7 linked regions of the Homo sapiens genome follow. The protein of the gene in region 1 purifies or fractionates together with the protein of each later gene. This does not show direct contact. Each region holds a gene or a part of one and is shown in the gene's direction. Other genes may lie near its edges.

Evidence for each region.
Region 2: the proteins of LGALS3 (region 1) and PTGFRN purify together in Homo sapiens (affinity purification with mass spectrometry; 4 studies listed by BioGRID and IntAct, with this or other methods). This does not show direct contact.
Region 3: the proteins of LGALS3 (region 1) and SLC12A2 purify together in Homo sapiens (affinity purification with mass spectrometry; 5 studies listed by BioGRID and IntAct, with this or other methods). This does not show direct contact.
Region 4: the proteins of LGALS3 (region 1) and ATP2B4 purify together in Homo sapiens (affinity purification with mass spectrometry; 4 studies listed by BioGRID and IntAct, with this or other methods). This does not show direct contact.
Region 5: the proteins of LGALS3 (region 1) and COLEC12 purify together in Homo sapiens (affinity purification with mass spectrometry; 4 studies listed by BioGRID and IntAct, with this or other methods). This does not show direct contact.
Region 6: the proteins of LGALS3 (region 1) and CSPG4 purify together in Homo sapiens (affinity purification with mass spectrometry; 4 studies listed by BioGRID and IntAct, with this or other methods). This does not show direct contact.
Region 7: the proteins of LGALS3 (region 1) and SLC26A2 purify together in Homo sapiens (affinity purification with mass spectrometry; 4 studies listed by BioGRID and IntAct, with this or other methods). This does not show direct contact.

The regions. Positions count from the first base shown.
Region 1 is NC_000014.9:55,139,252-55,142,587, forward strand, and holds part of LGALS3 (galectin-3), read left to right. Parts: intron 1-1,023; coding exon 1,024-1,112; intron 1,113-3,332; coding exon 3,333-3,336. UniProt on the Homo sapiens protein: Galactose-specific lectin which binds IgE. May mediate with the alpha-3, beta-1 integrin the stimulation by CSPG4 of endothelial cells migration.
Region 2 is NC_000001.11:116,958,416-116,961,915, forward strand, and holds part of PTGFRN (prostaglandin F2 receptor negative regulator precursor), read left to right. Parts: intron 1-2,827; coding exon 2,828-3,253; intron 3,254-3,500. UniProt on the Homo sapiens protein: Inhibits the binding of prostaglandin F2-alpha (PGF2-alpha) to its specific FP receptor, by decreasing the receptor number rather than the affinity constant. Functional coupling with the prostaglandin F2-alpha receptor seems to occur.
Region 3 is NC_000005.10:128,090,266-128,093,765, forward strand, and holds part of SLC12A2 (solute carrier family 12 member 2), read left to right. Parts: intron 1-3,500. UniProt on the Homo sapiens protein: Cation-chloride cotransporter which mediates the electroneutral transport of chloride, potassium and/or sodium ions across the membrane. Plays a vital role in the regulation of ionic balance and cell volume.
Region 4 is NC_000001.11:203,720,832-203,724,331, forward strand, and holds part of ATP2B4 (plasma membrane calcium-transporting ATPase 4), read left to right. Parts: intron 1-365; coding exon 366-579; intron 580-1,646; coding exon 1,647-1,858; intron 1,859-3,049; coding exon 3,050-3,157; intron 3,158-3,500. UniProt on the Homo sapiens protein: Calcium/calmodulin-regulated and magnesium-dependent enzyme that catalyzes the hydrolysis of ATP coupled with the transport of calcium out of the cell. By regulating sperm cell calcium homeostasis, may play a role in sperm motility.
Region 5 is NC_000018.10:333,202-336,701, reverse strand, and holds part of COLEC12 (collectin-12), read left to right. Parts: intron 1-1,471; coding exon 1,472-1,960; intron 1,961-3,500. UniProt on the Homo sapiens protein: Scavenger receptor that displays several functions associated with host defense. Promotes binding and phagocytosis of Gram-positive, Gram-negative bacteria and yeast.
Region 6 is NC_000015.10:75,681,849-75,685,348, reverse strand, and holds part of CSPG4 (chondroitin sulfate proteoglycan 4 precursor), read left to right. Parts: coding exon 1-130; intron 131-436; coding exon 437-613; intron 614-2,307; coding exon 2,308-2,506; intron 2,507-2,607; coding exon 2,608-2,742; intron 2,743-2,889; coding exon 2,890-3,056; intron 3,057-3,500. UniProt on the Homo sapiens protein: Proteoglycan playing a role in cell proliferation and migration which stimulates endothelial cells motility during microvascular morphogenesis. May also inhibit neurite outgrowth and growth cone collapse during axon regeneration.
Region 7 is NC_000005.10:149,967,258-149,970,757, forward strand, and holds part of SLC26A2 (sulfate transporter), read left to right. Parts: intron 1-3,500. UniProt on the Homo sapiens protein: Sulfate transporter which mediates sulfate uptake into chondrocytes in order to maintain adequate sulfation of proteoglycans which is needed for cartilage development.

The DNA.
Region 1 (3,336 bases):
ATGTCTTAGGAGTCATAGAGGACTCTGACTTTTCAAGGCTGAGCAACTAGAGCCATCAGCAAAGCTTTAGCCCAAACTGGGAACTCATGAAGGGGAACTGATGGGGGAGGGGGTAGGGAAGACCATTCTAGTTCACACTTGTTGAATTTGAGGCACTAGCAGCAAATCTAGGTGGGAGGAAGTACAGGACTAGTACACACCAGGACTAGAAAGAAAATATTTGGATAGGCTGGGTGTGGTGGCTCATGCCTGTAATCCCACCACTGTGGGAGGCTGAGGCAGGAGGATCACTTGAGTCCAAGAGGTTGAGGCTGCAGTGAGCTATGATCACACCACTGCACTCCATCCTCAACAACTGAGACTCGGATTTTTGAGACCTTGTCTCAAAAAATAAAAAGGTTTGGGTGATAGTTAAACCCAGGGGGAAGTCTTAAAAAGGGAAAGAAAAGAGGCCATAAATAAATAGAGCTTTGGGGATATTCACAGTACCTTGAATGTAGTTGGTCAATAAACATTTGTGGAATGAACCTCACAGTGTTAACAGTGTTCATTCCATAAATATTGAGTATCTGCCATATGCAAAGCACTCTGCTGGAGCCATGTGAGTACAAAGCATATGAGAACCCACAAGCCCAGAATGTGATATGCTGCTTGCCCCCAGGAAGCAGAATATCCACAGTAAAGCATGTACCATGACAGGGCCTTAAGAGTGATACAAAAATGTTAATGTTGATCACAAGATCTAGCTTAAGCCTTTCCAAAAATAGTCAACATGAATGAGTACAAATTGGGATGGCCGTAGTAATGAGATTTACTGATGGCTTTCTTTTCAATTATTTGTACATCTAGGGAGCCTTATCTCTTTGGCCCCTGGGCAAAGTGGCCTGAGAGTCTGGACAGATGGCATATACTAGAGTTATGTGTTTTTCACACATATTAATAGTGATGGAACTTTAGCAACATCGTTTTTTCCCCAAAGAAACATGACTCCTTATTGACACATATGTACTTGTTAATTCCCAGATTGTGCCTTATAACCTGCCTTTGCCTGGGGGAGTGGTGCCTCGCATGCTGATAACAATTCTGGGCACGGTGAAGCCCAATGCAAACAGGTAAGGAGAGCAAAATTAACAAGTCTACTCTATTTGTAGATTGGTTTTTGAATAAAGAATGGCCTACTTTTTTTCTTCTTGCCCTGTCTTACAGTGCTATTTTGAATTTTAGTAAAATTTTAAAAACTACATATTTAGAATCTTGGCTATACCATCATATAGGATTATCCCATAAATCCATACATATTCCCATATAATTTTGCTAAGCATCATGGCACTCATAGTAAACGGTAACACACCTTATTCTATACTTTGATATGTATTATGTCAGCTAATCTTCATGGCTGAAGGCAGGATAAGGAATATTGCTCTCCCCTTTTTATAGACAAAACTGAGGTTCAGGTTCTACAGATGATCAGTGGCAGGCCTGGGAACCCGTCTTTTGAGCAGATACTATTTGCTTATGGGTTTGAAGAGATTCTACAAGTTAAAAACTTCATCATTATAAATCAACCTTTACTATTGGAAGTAGTTTGATTGATGAGGTGGGCTAGGATGGGGTGAGGCTTTATTTAGGAAAATACATGCTAATTATGGCTGTCCTGGGCTGCTTGGCCCTGGTTGTCACCACTGGTTATGTAGTACTTACATATCATACAAGGAAGCTGGCCATGTCCTGAAACCATCTGAGATGCCTGCCCCTAAGGTTAGTGGAACTGTCTCTAGGTCTTATGGACAGTACCTAAATGGCACAAATTCAAGCCATGTACACAGGTTTATGCAAGAATCCATAAACAGTCTCAGTGTCTGTCACCTTGCTCCACATCCTGCAATCAAGAGATGGACTTCACTTCTGATCTGATAATTTCACATTCAAATGCTCATTCCCTCCACCTCAGCCAGCCTCCTCTGCTTCTGCAATGGTAGTCACTATCCTAAGCCAACCCATCTTTCCACACAGCCTAGACAATTTCTGTAAGCACAGAACTTCCCCGTACAATAATGCCCGTCTCATAGCAAATTACAAAATATATACATCCTCTACCTATGTCCTTATCCGTATTTCCTCCCAACATCACATAGAACCCAGCACACCTTATCCTGTGCACACAGCACTCATGATTTATTAAATATCTGCTCTCCTCCTCCCACAACCCCTAACGCACACTGAATACCCAGTTTGGTATCCTTGTCTTGTTAGAGTCATTTCACTGGAAAGTTTAGTTCTAATAATGCTAGAGATGTAGATTGAGACTGGCAGATCAAAACTAATTCTGGTTGAAATGGTTAATGGTAGTAAACTTAAAAAAAACTGTTGCTTAGTCCTGCAAATTCTATATGACGAACTGTGTAGAAAAAAAAAGTGCTTAAGGTGACAGAGATGACAACATTGTATATTTAGTCAAATACAAATTCTATGCTGTTTTTTCCTTACAAATTTAATCACTGGAAGATCATTTGTGGTTGAATGTGACTGTTACTGGGTGAATCAAAATACACAGACAATCTTTGTTAGTTGGTCTAGAGTGCAGATTAAAATACGAATACCTACTGATGACTCTGGTGTTACCGCTCTATAGAGCGCACTTTGAGAAACTCAGGGATGGGGTTAGTCAAAGAGGACTTGTGTTTGCATTAACCTCCAGGGAGAAGGAACAGGGTCAAAAAGCTAAACTAGCAATTTCATTGGTTCTGGCTCACATCATAGAATGTTTACCACATTTACTATCATGACTTTACAACTTAGCAACAAGATACTGAATATTAACTACCTTATCTCATTCTTGCTGTTTTAGAGGAACTAGGGCTTCTGGTTAATTATGAGGAAGCCAGGTATTTGATGGCTGTTAACTATATAGCTGGCTTGCCTTTACCAGGTATTGAAAGCAAACTGGAAGAGCAGGAAAGAGATAACCATTATCTATAGTAAGGGATAAAGTGTCCTCAGAGTGGCTCTAAACCTCTGTAAGAAAACCTCGAAGGGTTTTCATGAGTCTGTAGGGGCATTACAGATGAATGGAAATATGATCGAAGACAATGAGGCAAAAAATTCAACATCTATTGTCTTGCTTACCTTTAGATTTTGTGATAGTACATAGAATATCAGGCATAGGATATTTTCCAGTTTGAACCCATTCTGATTTATTTGCTTTCCATTCAGAAAAATTTCCTAGGTACTGTATTATGAAATTATTTGCTTTTTAGAAAATTACATGTTCTTTACACAGTGCAAATGTACAGCTTTAATCATTTTAATAACTGGTCTTTGGTTTAAAACAGAATT
Region 2 (3,500 bases), on another chromosome or scaffold:
CTAAGGATGCACTTGAAAGGTGGTAGAAGACAGGGCTCCGTTCCCATCTGCCACTTTTGAACTGTGTGGCCAAGTCACTAACTTCTTTAAAGCTCTCCCCTCAGAAATGGGAACTGTGAATAATGATCACAAATATATACACGTGTATGTGTATATGAATATGTGTGTACCTGCATACACACACACACCAGGCACCAGTCTAGGCATTTTAAGTACAGTATATTTTAACTCTTAACCCTCACAATAACATTATGAGCTAGTTACTGTCATCCCCATTTGTATGGGTGAGGCACCAGAGATCTGAGTAATCTACCCAAGGTCAATAGCAAGTAAGTGGCAGAACCAGGATTTGAACACAGTCTGGCTCCAGACCTCAGCTCCTCACCACTGTTCTCTGCTGCCTCACAGTTTGCTGTTCAGGGTTATGGTTCTCCAGTCCCCACACAGTCTCATGCCACACAGGAAGGGTCTTATGTGTTGTGCTTGAAATGGACTTGAGGCTCCATGTAAGAGCCACTGCTGGCTGCTGCCTACAGATAGTTGATGCTCAGTGTTCTGGGGCAGTCTTACCCTATGCACAGCTGGTGCAAATCTGCCCTTTCCACATGAGATGGACTTAGTTGTCCTGCTCTGCACCCACATTGCTGCATCCTGAATTCGACATGAAAGTTTAGATGTGGAGTAATTTGAGCATTCCTTATCTTTTGCATATGATGGTGTAAACACAGTTGGGTGGTGTGTGTCCTTCAGTCAGTTTTTGCTAGGGTGATGTGTGGTGTGGTGTATTAGCACCATGCTCAGGTTCAGGACATCCCCTAGCAGTGTGACAGCATATGAGCCTGTAAAATGAGCAGTCAGAATGGCCAGTGGATTCCTCTCTAGCCCTGGCAGTCCCACAGCCTGTGGATTTCTCTATGGTGTCCACATCACAGTACGATGTACTCCCATGGATGGGCACAAGCAATTAAATACTTGTGAAGATGACATTTGAGGAATTAGGATTTTGAGTTCTTTGCATTTTCTGGTCCACTGAATCATTCTTGGAGAAATCATGATGTTATAAATTCCATTAGAAGTGTAAATCACAAGAAAAGTTCCTTGACCTCAGCAGTTTGTAATCTGTATGTCATAAATGAAAACAATGTTAAATAAAACCAAACTTTGATCAAGGTGATGCAGATAAAGATAATGTTGATAAATGGAGAGTTCTGTTTAGGTAGTATTATTTTTCTCCCAGAAGGCAAAGTGCTATGGAAGAAAAACGTAGCCCTTTATAGGCCGGGTGCGGTGGCTCGTTCCTGTAATCCCAGCACTTTGGGAGGCTGAGGTGGGCAGATCACTTGAGGTCAGGAGTTTGAGACCAGCCTGTCCAACATGGCAAAACCCTGTCTCTACTAAAAAAATGCAAAAATGAGCTGGGTGTGGTGGTATGTTCCTGAATTCCCAGCTATTTGGTTGGCTGAAGCATGAGAAACGCTGGAACCTGGGAGGCAGTTGCAGTGAACTGAGATCGCGCCACTGCACTCCACTTGGGGACAGTAAGACTGTCCAAAAAAAAAACAAAAGAAGAAGAAGAAGAAAAATGTAGCCTTTTCTAAAAGCCTGAACATTCAGGCAGTAAACATTTACTGAGTGCCTACTGCATAAAAGGCAGTGTATTTGGAGCTTGAGGATGAGACTATAAGCAAAGAGTCATTGTGGAGTGGGCTAACTGGCATACAAAAGTGCATAGATGGCTTATGGGAGCACAGAGTATATCCCTTCTGGGGACCCAGGACCAGGTGACATTGAAGAATAAGTGGAAGTTTGTAGTGCATCTCACATCATCACAGTGGCGTGAGACTGTGTGGAGACTGGAGAACCTCGAGTAATCAGGTGTAGAGGAGCTGGGGGAAAGGAGAGGAAGCCACAAGAGGATTCCAACATCAGCTCCTTGGCAGGTATGGAGGAAGCCTTGGGGCAAAGGAGGACAGAACCATGGAGGTGCAGAAATGGATTAAATTGATGCAGTGAACCCCAGAGGAAGGAGGGGTTTTTCTCCCAGTGGAAACAGGACCGTGGCAGAGGCAAGGGGATGCTAGGAGAATGCTGGCTTCCCTCCCACCCTTCTCTGCAGGGACATGGGGTGCTCACTAGGGCAAGATTCACAGTGACACAGGTGAGTTACATGTGGCAGTAGCGAGAATGTCTGTGGGAGAGTTTGAGGATGGGAGTGCTTATTGACCACTGAACACAGATTCCGCAGAAAAAGTCAGAGGAACGGTAAAGTGAGGACATAAATATGTAGGGGGAATGATGACCTGAGGGCCTTGCATTTAGGGCATGGCCAAGGATGACAGGAAGCTGAGCCACTGTGCCACTGATGGGCCTCGAGTTCTGGAATTTACTGTTGGGTGGGGTTTTCCGATACTGTTCCAGTGGGGGTGTTGGAGGTCTGTGGGCTTACTTGGCATTCCAGAGCAATCTTGGTAGGGGGTGGACACTGAGCTTCTTAAGAGATTCTTCTCAGAAGACCTTAACCTCTTGGGGAAACTGACAGCAGACCCCAGTGCCATGGAAGGATCAAGATTCTGGCCGAGGACATTGGGCTTCTGTTCTTGGGAGGTTTTCTTGGGGTGGGAGGTATGAGAAGCGGTGTTTTACAAGTTTTGCAAAAACACTGTTCTAGGATCCTATCCAATGCAACGACTGATTTCTGTCTCTCTAGTCCGGCAGGAGAAGCATTTAATTGTTAAAACAAGAGCAGTCCTTGTCTCATTCCTTTTGTTAATTCTTGCCATGTTACTCTAATTATTTTCCTATCCTGGCCTTTCTGTCTCTCGTTCAGAACCAGACTACCAGGTGTACCTGAATGCTTCCAAGGTCCCCGGGTTTGCGGATGACCCCACAGAGCTGGCATGCCGGGTGGTGGACACGAAGAGTGGGGAGGCGAATGTCCGATTCACGGTTTCGTGGTACTACAGGATGAACCGGCGCAGCGACAATGTGGTGACCAGCGAGCTGCTTGCAGTCATGGACGGGGACTGGACGCTAAAATATGGAGAGAGGAGCAAGCAGCGGGCCCAGGATGGAGACTTTATTTTTTCTAAGGAACATACAGACACGTTCAATTTCCGGATCCAAAGGACTACAGAGGAAGACAGAGGCAATTATTACTGTGTTGTGTCTGCCTGGACCAAACAGCGGAACAACAGCTGGGTGAAAAGCAAGGATGTCTTCTCCAAGCCTGTTAACATATTTTGGGCATTAGAAGGTAGGAACTTTTTTCTTGTTATTCATTTTTGTTTTGTCTTTGCTTAAGTCGTGCCGCTGTGTGTTGATGCACAGTCACCCTCTGCAGGTTATCACTTACACTAGGAATGTGTGTCCTGGACATTGATCGCCATGCGACCCGTTGCACATGCTCTTTGGACTCACTATCACCCCTCCTCTGTCCCCAAGCCCCAGAGAGGTCCCTCTCCAACTCACTGTCAATCAGCCAAGTCTCTTGTTTCCTGAAC
Region 3 (3,500 bases), on another chromosome or scaffold:
AAAAATCAGTACACTGCTAAATTGATATCTTCTCTGTGTGTATTTATGTTCATACATTTTAAAATCCTGTGAGACTAGAATTTAAAGGACCAAAATAGAGTTTCTTGGTTCTTATGTGTGGAGTGTGTTTGCTTTCAATGATATTTCATTATATGTTACATATATATATTTGGGAAGTCTATAGTATAGTCCTATGCTGAAGTGAAATAAATGTGAACCTAGTTATTCAACAAATCCTTGTTGAACATCAACAACAACACTGTTCTAAATGCTGGGGATATAGCAGTAAACAAAACAAAGTCATGGGGCTTTCATTCTAGCGGTAGGAGACAATAAACAAACAAAATTAAAGCAGGGCGAGGAAAATTAAAGGTGGCTAGATGATGGCTGGGTGATGCTGTTTTAGCATTGTTAGGGAAGACCTCTGATATGTGAGCAGGCTCTAGAAAGGGGTGACCCCCATGCAGATACCAGGGAAAGAACACTCTAGGCAGAGGAACAACAGATACCAAGACCCTGAGATGGGAGTGTGCTTGGTGTGATGGAGAGACAGGGAGGTCAGCAAGACCGAATTGATGAGGCAGTGTGATAAAGTCAGGGGGTAGTGAGGACCAAATAGCGCAGAACCTTGCAGATCATGATAAAGACTTAGGATTTTACTCTGAGTGATTTAGGGGAAGGCATTGTAGGGTTTTGAGCACAGATTTGACATGATCTGACTTATGTTTTCAAAATACCACGCTGATTGTTGTGTAGAGAATATACTGTAAGGGGGCAAGAGTAGAAGGCAGGAAACCAGTTAGAAGCCTACTGCAATGGTTCCATTAAGATGATAATGACTTTTACTAAGGTAGTAGTGATTGATACAATGAGAGGTGTTCAGATGCTGGATGTGTTTCAGAGGTAGAATTGTTGGGATTTGCTGATGGTTTGGATGAGGGGATGTATGGACAGAGTAATACTAGGGTTTTCCCCCTATTTAGAATGGAGTTGATATTAATGGAGAAGTCTGTGAGAAGGGCAGGTTTGGGAGATGGACTCAAGATAGGGTTTCATTCTACAAATTAGTTCTCCAATGAGGCAAACAGGTAAAATTGCAGATACTGGTTTGTTAAATAGTAGAACTTAAGAAAACAGCTTTCATTTTTAGCGTAAAAATGTGCTTTTGCTCTTCAGGTAAAACCATGAAAACTAGTAGTCTTTCAAATACTGTACAAAGGGGTAGGGAACTAGTGGGTTGATTCCACAAAGTGAAAGCCCACTGAGGGTGAGCAACAAGGAAAATTACTTAAAATACTGAAGTTAAAAACATTAGTGGTGTCTCATTTAAACCATGAAAGCTACTATCAGCTGAGGCCCTCCTTTGTCTTTTTCCATTTTCACTAGGATCTCTACCAACACTAGCTTAAAGCTATTATGAAAAACTTGGAGCTGGTAGAGAACTTGGGGGTTTCTAATTGGAAGAAGGGGGAAAGCCAAAAAGAAAAAATAGCTTAGTGGAATGTTGACTCTCAGCAGAAGCTAATTATGGCTAGTACACTCATAGTATCATTGGACTCAGAAATTTCCCTGCCTTAATTTTTAAAAAAATTCTGTGCTTTTTCTGAATAGTCACAAATTAGATATTCATCTAGGTTCAGAATTCTGGAAACCTGTGGGATAGTTCTTTGTTGGGTAAGTGTGAATTAGTTCTTCCATCAGTTTAGTTTCAAACAGAATTTGGTATGGTATGCTAGCCATTTTGGAGACTTTTGCAAGGGAGCGTAGGTGGTTTGGCAGGGCAGGCTTGAGTATTCCAGTGGGGAAAGACTTAGAGGACCCTAATCATTAGAGACCTGCCCTTCCCACAGACTTCTCCATTAATATCAACTCCATTCTAAATAGGTATTACTCTGTCCATACATCCCCATCCAGACTATCAGCAAATCTGAACAATTATACGTTTGAAACACATCCAGTATCTCAATACCTCTCATTGTATCAGTCACAACCACTTTGGTAAAAGCCCATTATCATCTTAATGGAACCATTGCAGTAGCCAAGATGAGAGGAAGGGGGTGATTAAAACATTTAGCTGCAATTCAAGAATTGGGCTATAGGGCTGACGGTCTTGGAAAGAGGTAGGAAACTTCACAGAGCATGTCTGGACTGAGGACCCCAGTCCGAAGTTTGGACTAGCAGTTGTTGTGATTATGGCCTGTTACCATTTAAGGTCTTTATCAGTGCTGTCCGATAGAAATATAATATGAACTACATATGTCATTTAAAAAAGTAAAGAATCAGGCAAAATTAATTTATAATATACCGTATTTTATTTGACACTGTGTCTAAAACATTCATTGCAGATATAATGAATATTAAAACATTTATAATGAGATATCTCAATTTCTTTTTTTTGTACAAAGTTTGAAACCCCGTGTGTTTTTCACATACAGTACAGCACATCTCAATTCAGACAAACATTTCAATGGTGTTGAAGTAGTAGCTCCTTGTGACCTTTGATTACTATATTGGACAGTGTAGATGTAAACAGTACTTGGCAGTTTGGTTCTGAGGTCCTATGATTTTCATTTTTCTTCTTGGATATTTAACTGTTCCTGTCAATAGTTTACTTCTGTTAAAGAAATTTGAGTAGCTTCTATCTGACAGAAAAAGCGGAATATTTTATTTAACTCTCATTCCTTTCCAGGTACAAGCTCTTTCCTTCCTTCCTCAGCCAGACTTGTTGAGAGTATTGTTTATAATTGCCGTCTTTCCTTCCTTACCTTTTACTCAAACTGCTGTAGTGTGGCTTCTATTTTGCATAAATAGTTCTTGTTAAAGTCACAAGTGATCTCCATTCTTATCACAAATTTCAGGAAGTTTTTGTTTTGTTCTGTTTTGTTTTGTTTTGAGCAGTGTTCAGCTTTCAGGCAGCATTTGGTGTTCTTTTGAAGTGTTTTGGTCACTTCCTTGGCTTCTTAGTTTTCCTTCTGCCTTTCTGACTCTTTCAGCCTCGCATCCTTTGCAGTCGCCTCCTTCTCTAACCTGAACATCCTCAAGGCTTTATTTGGACTTTTCTCCTTCCTTGTTCCTCTTTTTTCTCTCCTTATGCTACATCATCTGTAGTCCAATGACTCCCGAAATTTCGTCTTCTACCCACACTCCTCTGAGTTCTGGGTATCCAATGCTTGCTTGACATTTTTGTTTTATGTCTCAAAGATAACTCAAGCTCACAAACTTAGTATTTCTTCCCATTCCCTCCAGAAACAAGAATCCAGGCCCTCTGCCAGTGTGTGCTATATCTCTCGGAATGGTACCACTATTCATCATACTGCAAAAGTGAGAAACCTATGAGTCATCCTTGACACTTTTCTCTCATTCCCCCATCCAATCACTGAGTTCTGTCAACTTGAATTTCTAAATATTCTTTTCATCTAAGCTGCTACCATCCTATTAGGTTGGTGTAAAAGTAATTGCATTTTTTGACATTGAAAGTAATGCCAAAAACCGCAATGACT
Region 4 (3,500 bases), on another chromosome or scaffold:
AAGACAGCGTTTCCCCATGACATTGGGACAGGAGTTAGCTCTTCTAAGTCTGCTGTCTTCATCTGCTTATGTAGATGGTAACTTACAGGCCTTAGCTTAGCACTTATGTGTCAGCCACTGTAATAAGCATTTATATGCACTATCTGTATTCTTCAAAAATGACCTTGTGAAGTAGGTATTATTATCCCCATTTTATGGGTGAGGAACTTGAGGCTCAAGGAAGTTAAGTAGCTTTCTCACAGTCACTCAGCTAGGAAGTGGCCAGATTCCAAGTCTAGGTGGGTCGTGGGAGCTGGGCCATCGACAGGGCAAAGGTGGGCTGGTTTCAGAGAAAAGCTAAAAGGACTGGTTCTTCTCCCCGCCAGGATTCCCCATTGAAAGCTGTGCAGATGTTGTGGGTTAATCTGATCATGGACACTTTTGCTTCATTGGCCCTGGCCACAGAGCCCCCTACGGAATCTCTGTTGAAGCGGCGCCCCTATGGCCGAAATAAGCCTCTGATCTCACGCACTATGATGAAGAACATCTTGGGCCATGCATTCTATCAGCTCATTGTCATCTTTATCCTTGTCTTTGCGGGTGAGCCACTTTGGGGGTGGGTAGCAGCTGGGGTCCTGGTTGGAGGTGGGGGCAGAGAAAGAAGGTAGCGTGAGAGCAAGTGCACAGGTCAGGAATAAGCGCAGCTTCACCTCCCAGTGCTTGCTGTGCTCCCGCTACACGGTGCATTATGCTACTATATGTACTCATACAGTACTCTTGAGTACAGTGTGTACTGTGTGTACTCAAGAATTTCACAAGGGAGGCTTTATTATTTCTTTCTTTCTTTTTTTTTTTTTTTTTTTCTTTTTGGAGACAGAGTCTCGCTCTGTCACCCAGGCTGGAGTGCAGTGGCGCTAACTCGGGTCACTGCAACGTCTGCCTCCCAGGTTCAAGTGATTTTCCTGCGTCAGCCTCCCAAATAGCTGGGATTACAGGCATGCGCCACCACACCCGGCTACTTTTTGTATTTTTAGTAGAGATGGGGTTTCATCATGTTGGCCAGGCTGGGCTCGATCTCCTGACCTTGTGATCTGCCCACCTCAGCCCCCCAGAGTGCTGGGATTACAGGCATGAGCCACCACGCCTGGCTTATTTCTTTTTTTACAGATTCAAAAAATTAACCTCAGGTCCCATAATGAGTACATAGTTGCAGTAAAATTCAAACCTATGATTGCCTGACTCCAGCGCACATAGTCTTACTACCATGCTGCACTACATGAGAGCAAGTATCAATGCAGCAAACTGAGAGAGAAGGTAAAATAAGTCAAGACCAGAACTAACATTTAAAATGTTTAATAACTAGTACAACAAAAAATTAGCCAGGCATGGTGGTGCACGCCTGTAGTCCCAGCTATTTGGGAGGCTGAGATGGAAGGATCACTTGAGCAGGAAGGTCCAGGCTGCAGTGAGCCATGATCATGCCACTGCGCTCCAGCCTGGGTGACAGAGTGAGACCCTGTGTCAAAAAAATAAATAACTAGTGCAGCTCAGATATTGATTAATTAGAATGGACACCAGCCATAAGCAAGCAGTATATCTGTACCAACACATTCTTACTCTTAGTTCAGACCACACTTAACCTCCAGTGCTTCTCCTCTCCCCACTAGGTGAGAAATTCTTTGATATTGATAGTGGGAGGAAGGCACCTCTACATTCACCACCCAGCCAGCACTATACCATTGTTTTTAACACCTTCGTGCTGATGCAGCTCTTCAATGAAATCAACTCCCGAAAGATCCATGGAGAGAAGAACGTCTTTTCAGGCATCTACCGCAACATTATCTTCTGCTCTGTAGTCTTGGGCACATTCATCTGCCAGGTGAGATTCTATCTGCAGTTGGGGCAGGAGATCTGGAATGATAAAGGGCAGAAGCTGGGAGCCAGGGTTCCCTACATACCTAGGAAAAGGAATGAAGGAATTACGGGGACTGGAGCTGTAAGTTGAACACTTTGGGATTCCCAATCTGCTTTCTTTTGCATATTGCTCTAGAATTGGAGCCCATTGTGTCAAGAGCTCCAGTGCAGGGCAGCATGTTGACTGGAAATAAAATAATACTTCTAAAATCCTTTCATGATCTTTCTAAATACACAGAAATTTCACAGAATGACCAAAAGAAGTATTCTCTTCTAGTCCCTTTCTATGGCTCCTGTCAGCCTATATGAAATGTGCATGCACATCTAGTATAGACTCTCCCTGTCCCTGCCCTTTGTTCTGAAGGGCTTATGATAAAAAGTGTTGTGCAACTCAAAGAAAGAGAAGTAATGGGATTTGTACATGTATATTACATAGTCAGCCCAGCTTGGACTCCTCCAATATGAGACTATGAGCTGATCATGTCCCATCCCTCAGCAGGGCACCTCCCTTTATTTGTCCCCATCCTCAATTCCTTTTTTTTTTTTTTTTTAATTTTAAAAATACAGATGGGGTCTCACTCTGTTGCTCAGGCTGGTCTCAAACTCCTGGCCTCAAGCAATCCTCCCGCCTCCCAAAGTGTTATTACGCCTGCCATTTTTTCTTTTTGTTTTTTTTTTTTTCGTTTGAGACAGATATCTCTCTCTCTCTCTCTCTCTCTCTCTCTCTCTCTCTCTCCCTCTGCCTCTCTCTCTCTCTCTCTTTTCCCCCCTCCCCCAGGGGGAGTGCAGCCTCAGTCTCCCAGGTTCAGGCAATCCTCCCACCTCATCCTCAGTTCCTAACTCCATCACTGTACCTTCTCCTTGTCACTAACTGGCTTTAGTCACAAGAAGCCACCAGCTCCCCTAACTCCTCCAGATTGTCTGTTAATCATAGTCACAGTAACTATGTCTGTCTCCCCATCAGAGTGCTCTTAAAGGCTGTTTTTGTCTGTCTCCCCTTTGAGATTTCTTCTTTTCCCTTCCCCTGCAAGCAAATCGGGACTTGTACCCAAGGATCCTGAGGAGTGGGATGATGTGGCTTTGGGGGCCTTGGCTGGAGGGCCAGCTGCCTGTTAGTCATTTCCTTGATGGTGGGCTGCCCCTTTCTCTGTTCTAGATTTTCATCGTGGAATTTGGGGGTAAACCCTTCAGTTGTACAAGCCTCAGCCTGTCTCAGTGGCTGTGGTGTCTCTTCATTGGGATTGGAGAACTTCTGTGGGGCCAGGTGAGTACCGGCACACCCTCCTGGTGCATTCTCACAGCCTGCAGAACTCCCCTCCTCTACATGAGATGGAACAAGCAACGGTGGAGACCCCCCAGCTCCTCATCTTCATCTTCTCCTCTTCCCTCCCCACCCCCACTCAAGTTTTCAAGTTCTTGCCATCTCATAGGATCTCAAGGTGGAATGATCACTTCAGAGGTTTCAGAATTCTTCTCTAACTAAGCCTGGAGGTAGAAAAATCCCTTAGCTTGGCTGGGCGCAGTGGCTCACACCTGTAATCCCAGCACTTTGGGAGGCCGAGGCAGGCAGATCACGAGGTCAGGAAATCAAGACCGTCCTGGCTAAC
Region 5 (3,500 bases), on another chromosome or scaffold:
TCTTACTCTCCTTGGTATCTGTTCCTAGTAGCTAAGTATCCTCGAACAAATAGTTTGGCATCTCTGGCCCTACATGTCCTCATTTATGCAATGAGAATTCTACCGCACAGGCAAGGTCAGGTGGCATAATGTATGTGAAAGTACCCTGAAAATTGTCATTCACTATACAGTTCCTGGTAGGAGATTATTTGTGTGAAATTTCCTGTTACCCCTGAGAAATTAAAGAAAGAAAAACAATCCTGTGTTACATGGGCCTCTTTGTGGGATAATGGGGATGAGCAGTATTCGCTTTTCTTCCCAATTAGATGGTCCACATACCTTTTTTCTCTAGCCTACCTTCCTTATGTGTATTATTAGACTTACAAACCCACCCAGAGAGTTTGGACACCTGTCCACAATGGGCAGCAAAGTCCCACCAGGCTTTCCCACAGAGACCTCCCGTCCCTCTGAGCTGGCCCATGGGTGAGTGAGGCCCAGCCCTAAGGACAGCAGCACCCCCACAGCTTTGGTGGACAGCACAGGCATGCCAGCTGGGGTACAACAGAGAGGAAGCTTACAGGGAAGTTATAGGCTTGGTTATGGGGAGAGAATTAATACATCAATCTCCTTCAGTTCTTTATCCCACAATACCTTAACACGGTGCTTGTCATATAAGCCTTTAATAAATATTTACCAAATTAAGGACAAGAGGAAATAAGTAAGAGGAAATCCTGATCCTGGTCTACACAACTTTCCTGCTGATGACAACACAGGCCCAGGTGACTAAGAGAACCCAGTTTAATCATGTGAGTCACTGTGAAGAATAAGCCCCTGGCTGTCAGTGTCACCATGAAGGACATCAGTGGGGCACTAAAACGTTGTGCACTGTTACAATACATTCTAAAAGCTTGAAGAAGAAGGGTGAGCTTACTGAAGAACACACAGTATATTGGCTTGCTTGGGCTGCCATATACACAGTACACAGTACACGGACTGGGAGGCTTAAACAACAGACATTTCTTTCCTTACGGTTCTGGAGGCCGCAAGTCCAAGATCAAGGTGTCAGCAGTGTTGTTTCCTCCGAGGCCTCCCTCCTTGGTTTGCAGGAGTCCATCTTCTCCCTGTGCCCTCAAGCGATCTTTCCTCTATGTGTCTGTGACCTAATCCCCTCTTCTTTAAGTACACCAGTCCTATTGGATTAGGGTCACTCATGTCACCTCGTTTTAACTCGATGACCTCTGTAAAGGCCGTGTCTCTTAATAAGTCCCATCCTGAGGTGCTGGGGGTTAGGACTTCAGCATAAGAATTTGGAGGAGGACATAATTTAGCCCATAACAGTCTACAGTAGTATGATAAACAGATGGTCTTTCCCTGCTGTATATACTTTGTATGCTAGGTTTTTTTAATTTGGAGATTTTATAAGAAGAAAAATTATTCATAACTATCATTCACAGTGGATTTCATGTTGACACCTTTTTCTTTTATGCTTTAGGTCCACCGGGCCCCAGGGGTCCAAGAGGTGACAGAGGATCCCAGGGACCCCCTGGCCCAACTGGCAACAAGGGACAGAAAGGAGAGAAGGGGGAGCCTGGACCACCTGGCCCTGCGGGTGAGAGAGGCCCAATTGGACCAGCTGGTCCCCCCGGAGAGCGTGGCGGCAAAGGATCTAAAGGCTCCCAGGGCCCCAAAGGCTCCCGTGGTTCCCCTGGGAAGCCCGGCCCTCAGGGCTCCAGTGGGGACCCAGGCCCCCCGGGCCCACCAGGCAAAGAGGGACTCCCCGGCCCTCAGGGCCCTCCTGGCTTCCAGGGACTTCAGGGCACCGTTGGGGAGCCTGGGGTGCCTGGACCTCGGGGACTGCCAGGCTTGCCTGGGGTACCAGGCATGCCAGGCCCCAAGGGCCCCCCCGGCCCTCCTGGCCCATCAGGAGCGGTGGTGCCCCTGGCCCTGCAGAATGAGCCAACCCCAGCACCGGAGGACAATGGTAAGTCCAAGCCCTCCCTCCAGCCAGGGGGACAGGGCAGTGCATGTGCTTGAGACTGAGCCAACCCCCAGTGTGTGGCCCCACCCATGTTATTTTTGTTTTTGTTTTTGTTTTGAGACAGGGTCTCACTCTGTTGCCCAGGCTGGAGTGCAGTGGCGTGATCTCGGCTCACTGCAACCTCCACATCCCGGGTTCAAGTGATTCTCCTGCCTTAGCCTCCCAGGTAGCTGGGACTACAAGCGTGTGCCCCCACAGCCAGCTAATTTTTGTATTTTTAGTAGAGAGGGGGTTTCACCGTGTTGGCCAGGCTGGTCTCAAACTCCTGGCCTCAAGTGATCCACCTACCTTAGTCTCCCAAAGTGCTGGGATTACAGGTGTGAGCCACCACGTCTTGTCCCCCGCTGCATATTATTTAACAGCAAAGGCATCATAGGGGCTGGCACAGGAGCCCTGCTGCCAGAACAGGCCTCCATACCAGGCATGTGTTTCTCTCTAAACGCCATTGGGTTCTCTAGTGCTCATTTGTTTTATGTATTATGTGTGTATGTATGGGACAGGGTCTCACTCTGTCACCCAGGCTGGAATGACGAAGTGAAGTAGTGCAAACATAGCTCACTGCAGCTTTGACCTCCTGGGCTTAGGTGATCTTCCCACTCAGACTCCTGCGTAGCTGGGACCACAGGGGTATGCCACCACACCTGGCTAATTTTTTATTTTCCTTTTTGTAGAGACAGGGTCTTGCTATGTTGCCCAGGCTGGTCTTGAACTCCTGGCCTCAAGCAACCCTCCTGCCTCAGTCTTGCAAAGTGCTGGGATTCCAGGTGGGAGCCACTGCACCTGGCTCTTGCACTTGTTTATTTATAGGAGCCAGCCCTCAGAAGACAAACACAATGCAAAACATTTCCTTCAGGGAAGCCTGCTGGCCGCCCTGAGCGCTCTTCCCTCGTTTTACATCCTCACTCTGGAGATAGATGGGCTCCCTCGGTTAGCTCCATCAACATGTGGATGGAACCCTCTGCTATTGATGACTACATTTAATTTCTTTTTGAGAAAGGTGTTAGATGTTACGGTGCCTTCTAGTCTTTTGATAATTAAACCTTTGGCAAAACTCGAATGTTTGGTTAGCAACCAAGCCTATTTTTCTCTCCTTTGACCCAACCGCTATTCTACTTGATTTTGGTCGGTGAGGCCCGGGTTATTTTTGTTGATCCGTGAGCCCAGTTTTGGTGCTGGGTTCTCACATCCAAGTGTTCCTGGGTTCCGTATGATTCCAGACTGACGCTGAACATCTGTGCCTGCCCTGCTTCTTGTTGTTGCTTCTGTTATTTCTGTCATTGTGAAGACGGATCCAGACACAGAAGAACAAAGACCCAGTCAAAGATCTTTTCCAGATTATGTGGTTTTGGCTTGTGCTCTGCAGTCCACTTTGGGTCATGCTTGCTGCGAGCACGTCCGTGAACGTCAGCTGTGGGCCTCGTGCAGGGACGCTCAGGCTGCTCCCAGCGGGACCACAGTTTTGGCCTCTGAAACACAGCTGAAG
Region 6 (3,500 bases), on another chromosome or scaffold:
TGTCTCCGGGCCCTACTTCCCCACTCTCCTGGGCCTCAGCCTGCAGGTGCTGGAGCCACCCCAGCATGGAGCCCTGCAGAAGGAGGACGGACCTCAAGCCAGGACCCTCAGCGCCTTCTCCTGGAGAATGGTATGGCTGTGAGAGAGGCCCAGGGGCTGCAGCCCAGCTCTGGGGGCAGAGTGGAGGGAGCCCTGGGGACTCCCAGTCTGGGGGTTATACACAGAGAGGAGACGGGGAGTCACATTTCAGAAGCACCTATGCTTTAAATACCATATATCTTTTCTTCCTCACAACTCCTCGGAGCCAGAACTTATGGTCCCCATTTTCTACCAATGGAAAATGAAGCCCTAAAAGAGTCAGTCTCCTCCTGCACCCAAAGGCAGGGCATGAAGGGTGCTGCTGGGGCCTGACTGCCAGCCCTGGGCCTGCCCCTAGGTGGAAGAGCAGCTGATCCGCTACGTGCATGACGGGAGCGAGACACTGACAGACAGTTTTGTCCTGATGGCTAATGCCTCCGAGATGGATCGCCAGAGCCATCCTGTGGCCTTCACTGTCACTGTCCTGCCTGTCAATGACCAACCCCCCATCCTCACTACAAACACAGGCCTGCAGGTGAGAGCATCCCTGGGAACACCCCCATGTCTGCTTCGAGAAAGAGGCCAGCGTCCCCTACTTCGCGGCTCAGAGCTCCCCCAGCTCTGATCCTCAGTTTCCTCCTCTGCAAAATGGGGACGCTGCCACATGCCTCACGGGGTTGTTGGAAGGAGAGAAGTGAGATTGTGCTGAAATAGAACACAGGTGGGAAGTTTTTTTATTGGATGTTTGCAAGTATGGTAGGCAGACTTCTGAGCGGCCACGGGTGGCTCTGCTGTTCCTTCTTCTGTGGCTAAGGACCAGAACATCTGACAGAATCACTTACAAGCCCTTAAGGGCAGGCATCAGGGCGGAAGCTGTTAAGTTTCCCACCTTCACCCAGCAAGTGAAGGCCATGGCTTGGCTCCCCAAACTCCTGCACAAGGCTGTTCCACGCCCAGCAGGACAGTGCAGGGAAGGCCCTGGTGAACTTCGCTCAGGCAGAGGTAAGGGCCCCACTCTGCAGGTGGAAGTTGAGGCCCAGACGTGGGATGGAACTTCTCCATGGTTGCAAAAGTAGTTCTGGTGGAACAGAAAGGGCATGGCTTTACAAAGCCCACATGGCAGGGCTTTGAACCCCAGCTTCTGGGGTGCATCCTCCCCGGTCAGCAGGAGCCACTGAAGTTTCCATAAAGGGCTGACTTGGGCTGTCTCTGGCATGGGGTGCCTGGGGCGGGGGTGGGGGCGGGGCCTTGGTGGTCTAGGATGTGCCCGTAGCGGGTGGCCTGGTGGTGCGGAAGCCGCCAAAGAGTGGGACACAGTGCTCTGGAACCACAGGCCAGGACGGCTGTGTGGCAGCACAGCCACCAGGTGGTGCCATCTACCTGTGTTTGCTCCAGAAGCCTAGTGCTGGGGTCCTGCCCCGCAACATTATGGCCCCTCCTGCCAGGGCTGGGCCTGAGGGCTCCCTGGGGCCGGGGGAGGAAGCCCAGGAATGCCAGAAGGCTCTGTTTTCCGGGCATGTGAGTCCCACTGCAGCTCTGCCCGCAAGTAATTGACCCAGCAAGACTGGTACCAGGACCTCAGGAACAGGCACCTGCTCTGCTTGCAAGTGGGAGGCCTGAAAAAGGGGTCCCCTTTGCCCAACATAAGGAGGGCCCCTAACTGCTCTGGAAGCACCTGGGCCCATCCCACGCTGATTCTGTGCTGCAGAACAGTGCCAACCATCAGCCCCCCACTCTCTGCGCCACGCACCCCTCCCTCAGCTGGAAGGAGGGCCCATTTCTAAAATCACCATTCCCACCTGTGCCCGGCCCCGGCCAGGCACACACGGAGGCTCTGAAAGGAGACCCCTGTCCCACCAGTGAGACAGATTAGGGAGCACTGTTGGTCAGCGCTGGGGGTTTCTGGGAGTGAGAACTTGGTGAGGGTAAGAGCTGGGGCCTTCCTGGGTAGGGGACATAAGCTGGCCTTGAGGGACACACAGGACTAGGGCAGATGGAGAGCAGGGAGGCTGGGCCTGGAGGGTGACCTTCCCTGGGGCCTTCCCTGGGGTGACAGGGAAGGTGAATGCGGGAGGCCCTTTGTGCAGGGGAGCCAGAGTGGCGCCAGCCTCGATGCCACCCGAGGGGCTGAGCCGCAGCAGGACTGGAGCCCTGGTGGCAGCCCAGGGCCGGGGAGGAAGGGGTGGGTGAGTGCGGCAAGGCAGAACCTTCACAGGCCTGTGTTCCCAGATGTGGGAGGGGGCCACTGCGCCCATCCCTGCGGAGGCTCTGAGGAGCACGGACGGCGACTCTGGGTCTGAGGATCTGGTCTACACCATCGAGCAGCCCAGCAACGGGCGGGTAGTGCTGCGGGGGGCGCCGGGCACTGAGGTGCGCAGCTTCACGCAGGCCCAGCTGGACGGCGGGCTCGTGCTGTTCTCACACAGAGGTGGGTGCTGAGGGCCGGGCCTCGGGTTCCTGCTGCCCACGGGGGTGCCCTGAGATGGGGAGCCGGCTCGGGCCAGCTGGACCCAATGCCCCTGTCCCCAGGAACCCTGGATGGAGGCTTCCGCTTCCGCCTCTCTGACGGCGAGCACACTTCCCCCGGACACTTCTTCCGAGTGACGGCCCAGAAGCAAGTGCTCCTCTCGCTGAAGGGCAGCCAGACACTGACTGTCTGCCCAGGTGGGTGTGCTGATCATGGGCATTCCTGGGTGCCAGGAGCTGGGGCGGAGCTGAGGGTGGCATGCCAGGGTCACGCTGCCTCTTTGCAAACACAGGCCTGGACCTGGCTCCCAGTCAAAATCTGATATCCCCTTTTGCCTCTGGCAGGGTCCGTCCAGCCACTCAGCAGTCAGACCCTCAGGGCCAGCTCCAGCGCAGGCACTGACCCCCAGCTCCTGCTCTACCGTGTGGTGCGGGGCCCCCAGCTAGGCCGGCTGTTCCACGCCCAGCAGGACAGCACAGGGGAGGCCCTGGTGAACTTCACTCAGGCAGAGGTAAGGGCCCAACTTTGCAGCCACCACTCAGATGCCCCCAGCCTCAGGTGGCCGCTGTGCCATGGACATCATGTGGACATGGATGCCAGCTCCAGCATCACTGGCAGCAGACGTTCCCGGGCCTGCCATTGTCCAGGCGCTAGTGTCCTGTCCTCCAGGAGCCGCCAGGCTGGCAGGGCAAGTTCATGTTCCCAGAAGGAGGGAGAAGGATGCAGAAAGTCGGGGATACAGGGCCCTAGAGCAGGGCTGGGGTCTTGGGGTATAGCTTCCAGAAGGAAGCTACAGCCGGACCCGAGGGTCTGGAGAGGGGGCACCATGTGGGGGCACTAGTGGTACCCCAGTAGCTGATGAGGGGCAGTGCTTGGTGGGGGATGGAGTTGGACGTGAAGCAGCGGCTGGGCCTGTGGGCAGAGGTGTGAGCCTGGGGCTCAGGTCAAGTGCCAG
Region 7 (3,500 bases), on another chromosome or scaffold:
ATAATTGACATACAATAAGCTGTACATATTTCAAAGGTACTCTCTCTATATATATACATAAAACTGTCACCACAATCAAGATAGTGAACATATCCATCAATCCCCAAAATCTCCTCATGCCCCTTTGTAATCTCTCTCTCCTACCCCACCTTACTTCCTATCCCGAAATAGCCACTGATTTACTTTCTGTCACTATAAATTAGTATAAACTTTTTTTCTTTCTTTCTTTTGGTGGAGGTGTCAGGAAATGAACTTGAGGACTGATTAGTTTGCATTTTGTAAAGTTTTTGTCCCTGAAATCTCCTTCATCTAATATTAATGTAGTGTACAATGCAGTGGCATGAAGTACGTGCACAATGGTGTGTAACCATTACTACTATTTATTTCCAAAACTTGAAATGGAAACTCTGTAACCAGTAACACCACTTCCCCCAGTACCCAGTAAACTCTATTTTCTTTCTCTATGTATATGCCTATTCTCTCTCTCTCTGTGTATATATATATTTTTGTTGTTGTTGTTGTTATTCTGTCACCTGGGCTAGAGTGCAGTGGCATGATCATAGCTCACTTCAACCTTGACCTCCTTGGCTCAAGCAATCCTCCCTCCTCAGCCTCCCAAAGTGCTGGGATTATAAGCATGAGCCACCCTGCCTGGCCCATTTTGCCTTTTCTAGATATTTTGTATAGGTAGAATCATACAATACTTGTCCTTTTGTGTCCTTTTTTTTTTTTTAGATCCAGCTCTTTTTTTTTATTTTTTATTTGTTTGCATCGTGTCTGTCTTTTGCTTAACATAAGGGTGTTAAGTTTCCTCCATGTTGTAGATGAAGAGTATCAGAACTTAATTCCTTTTTAATAGTCAAATAATATTCCATTTTATGGTTATACCATGCTTTATCTGTTCATCTGTTGATGGACACTTGGATTGTTTTCACCTTCTGGCTATTGTAAATAGTGCTGTTATGAACATTAGTATACAAATATCTGTTCGAGTTACAGTTTTTAGTCCTTTGAGTATAAGCGGAATTACTAGGTCATATAGCAGTGCTGTGTTTAACTTTTTGAGGAACCACCAAACTGTTTTTCACAGTGTTGGCACCATTTTACATTTCTACCAGCAATGTATCAAATGTATCAGCTGTTTTTTTTTAATTTTATTTATGTTATTTTTTAGACAGAGTCTCGCTCTGTCACTCAGGCTGGAGTGCAGTGGCGCAATCTTGGCTCACTGCAAGCTCCGCCTCCTGGGTTCACGCCATTCTCTTGCCTCAGCTGCCTGAGTAGCTAGGACTACAGGCGCCCGCCACCATGCCTGGCTAATTTTTTTTTTTTTTTTGTATTTTTAGTAGAGATGGGGTTTCACCATGTTAGCCAGGATGGTCTTGATCTCCTGACCTTGTGATCCGCCTGCCTCGGCCTCCCAAAGTGCTGGGATTACAGGCGTGAGCTACCGTGCCCGGCCTCAACTGTCTTTTTTTTGAGACGGACTCTCGGTCTGTTGCCGCAGCTGGGGTGCAGTGGCGCGATCTTGGTTCACTGCAACCTCCACCTCCTGGGTTCAAGTGATTCTTTGTGCCTCAGCTTGCTGAGTAGCTGTGCCTCAGCTTGCTGAGTTACAGCTGTGCAGGTGTACACCACCACACCCAGCTAATTTTTGTATTTTTGGTAGAGACAGGGTTTTGCCATGTTGCCCAGGCTGGTCTCGAACTCCTGACCTCAAGCGATTCACCCGCCTTGGCCTCCCAAAGTGCTGGGATTACACGTGTGAGCCACTGTGCCCGGCCTCAAATGTCTTTTAAAGAAACAAAAATTTTTGTCCAACAAAAGTCAAAGCTAATTCTTCTTGGAAAAGTTTTTGTTAAAATAACTTTTTAAAATAAAAACCATTCTGTCCATCAAAAACTTTATTAGATACTTCCTGTATGTGCCTAATTCTATGCTAGGTATTATGATAGTACACAAAAAGTGTAGAACATCTTGAATAATTTTAATCTAGTTAGGAAGATAAAGCACATATTCAACAAACGTTTATTGAACATATAAATGGAATTCAGCAGAGAATGAGGTACTGTAGACCTTTCACTCTGCCCCATTTATTTTTCCAATTTTGGCTTCTCTCCTGTACTTGAGAACCACATTTCTAATTGCCTGCTGGACACACCATCTGGACATATTATAAAAATCTCAAATCTAAAAAACCCAAAGTCAGATTTTTTGCTGCTTCCTATCTTTCCATTTTCTTCTCCATCTTCCTGTATATCATCCTTCCTTTTGTGTGATCCTTCTCAGATTTCATCTTAGATTTGTCTGTGTATGTCCTTTAAGCACCACCTCTTACCTAGTTGTACCACTGAAATGGCAAACCTCCTGCCCTTTCCTGCCTTGGAAGTTAGGCCTTTGGTAACTGTAGCTTAGAGGATGAACTCGTGACTTCTTGGAATTGCATAAAAACTAATCCTTCACTCCAGCCTTATCTCCTACAACTTCACCCTTGGAACCTAGTGTGACCTTTTCCTGGGTCTTGGACTATACTGTGATCTTTCACTTGCCTGAGTTACCTTTTCCCTTTCTATTAACGTTGCAGCTTCCTACTTCACGTTGGCCTGCAGTGTATTCTCCACTCTCAGAATACTCTAAACCTTTCTGTTATGGTACCTAGAATGCTGTTTAAAACTCTGTCTTAATCCACTGATTTTGGGTAGAAATTGGGTTATTACTCATTTTAGCAAGAATTTACTGAACCTCTACTGTATGTGCTAAGCATCGTTCTTGATAATGGAAATATAATAAGTACAAGAAAGACTGTAAATAATAGTTTTGCTTATAAGTAATATAATTTCAGAAGTCTGAAGTGCTATGAAGAAAATAAAGCCAGATAAGGATATAGGGAATGCTGGGAAGGAGGTGTTATTTTATTTGGTTGGGATGGTCAAGGAAGGTTTCTGTGAGGAGGTGACATATAAACTGAGGCCAGGCATGGTGGCTCACACCTGTAATCCCAGCACTTTGGGAGGCAGAAGTGGAAGAATTGATTGAGCCCAGGAGTTCGAGACCAGCCTGGGAAACATAGCAAGACCCTGTCTCTACAAAGAAATAAAAACAAATTAGCCAGGTATCGTGGTGTGTACCTGTAGTCCTAGCTACTTGGGAGGCTGAGGTGGGAGGATTGCTTGGGCCTAGGAGTTCAAGGCTGTAGTGAGCTATGACCATGCCACTGCACTCTAACCTGAGTGACAGAGTGAGATCCTGTCACTAAAAAAGAAAAATAAAAGCTGAGACCCAAAGGATGAGAACATACCTGTATAGATCTGGGAGATTATTATTCTAGGCAAAGACAACTTGAGCAAGTACAGTGACCCTAAGAATGGAATCAACTTGGCATGTTCCAGCAACTGCAAAAAAGCCAGTAGGAAATAAGGGCAAAAAGGGAGGCAGTGTTCAGATCTTGCAGGCTATTAGAGTATTCCAGGTGAGAGAGGATGGTAGGACAATAGTGAGAA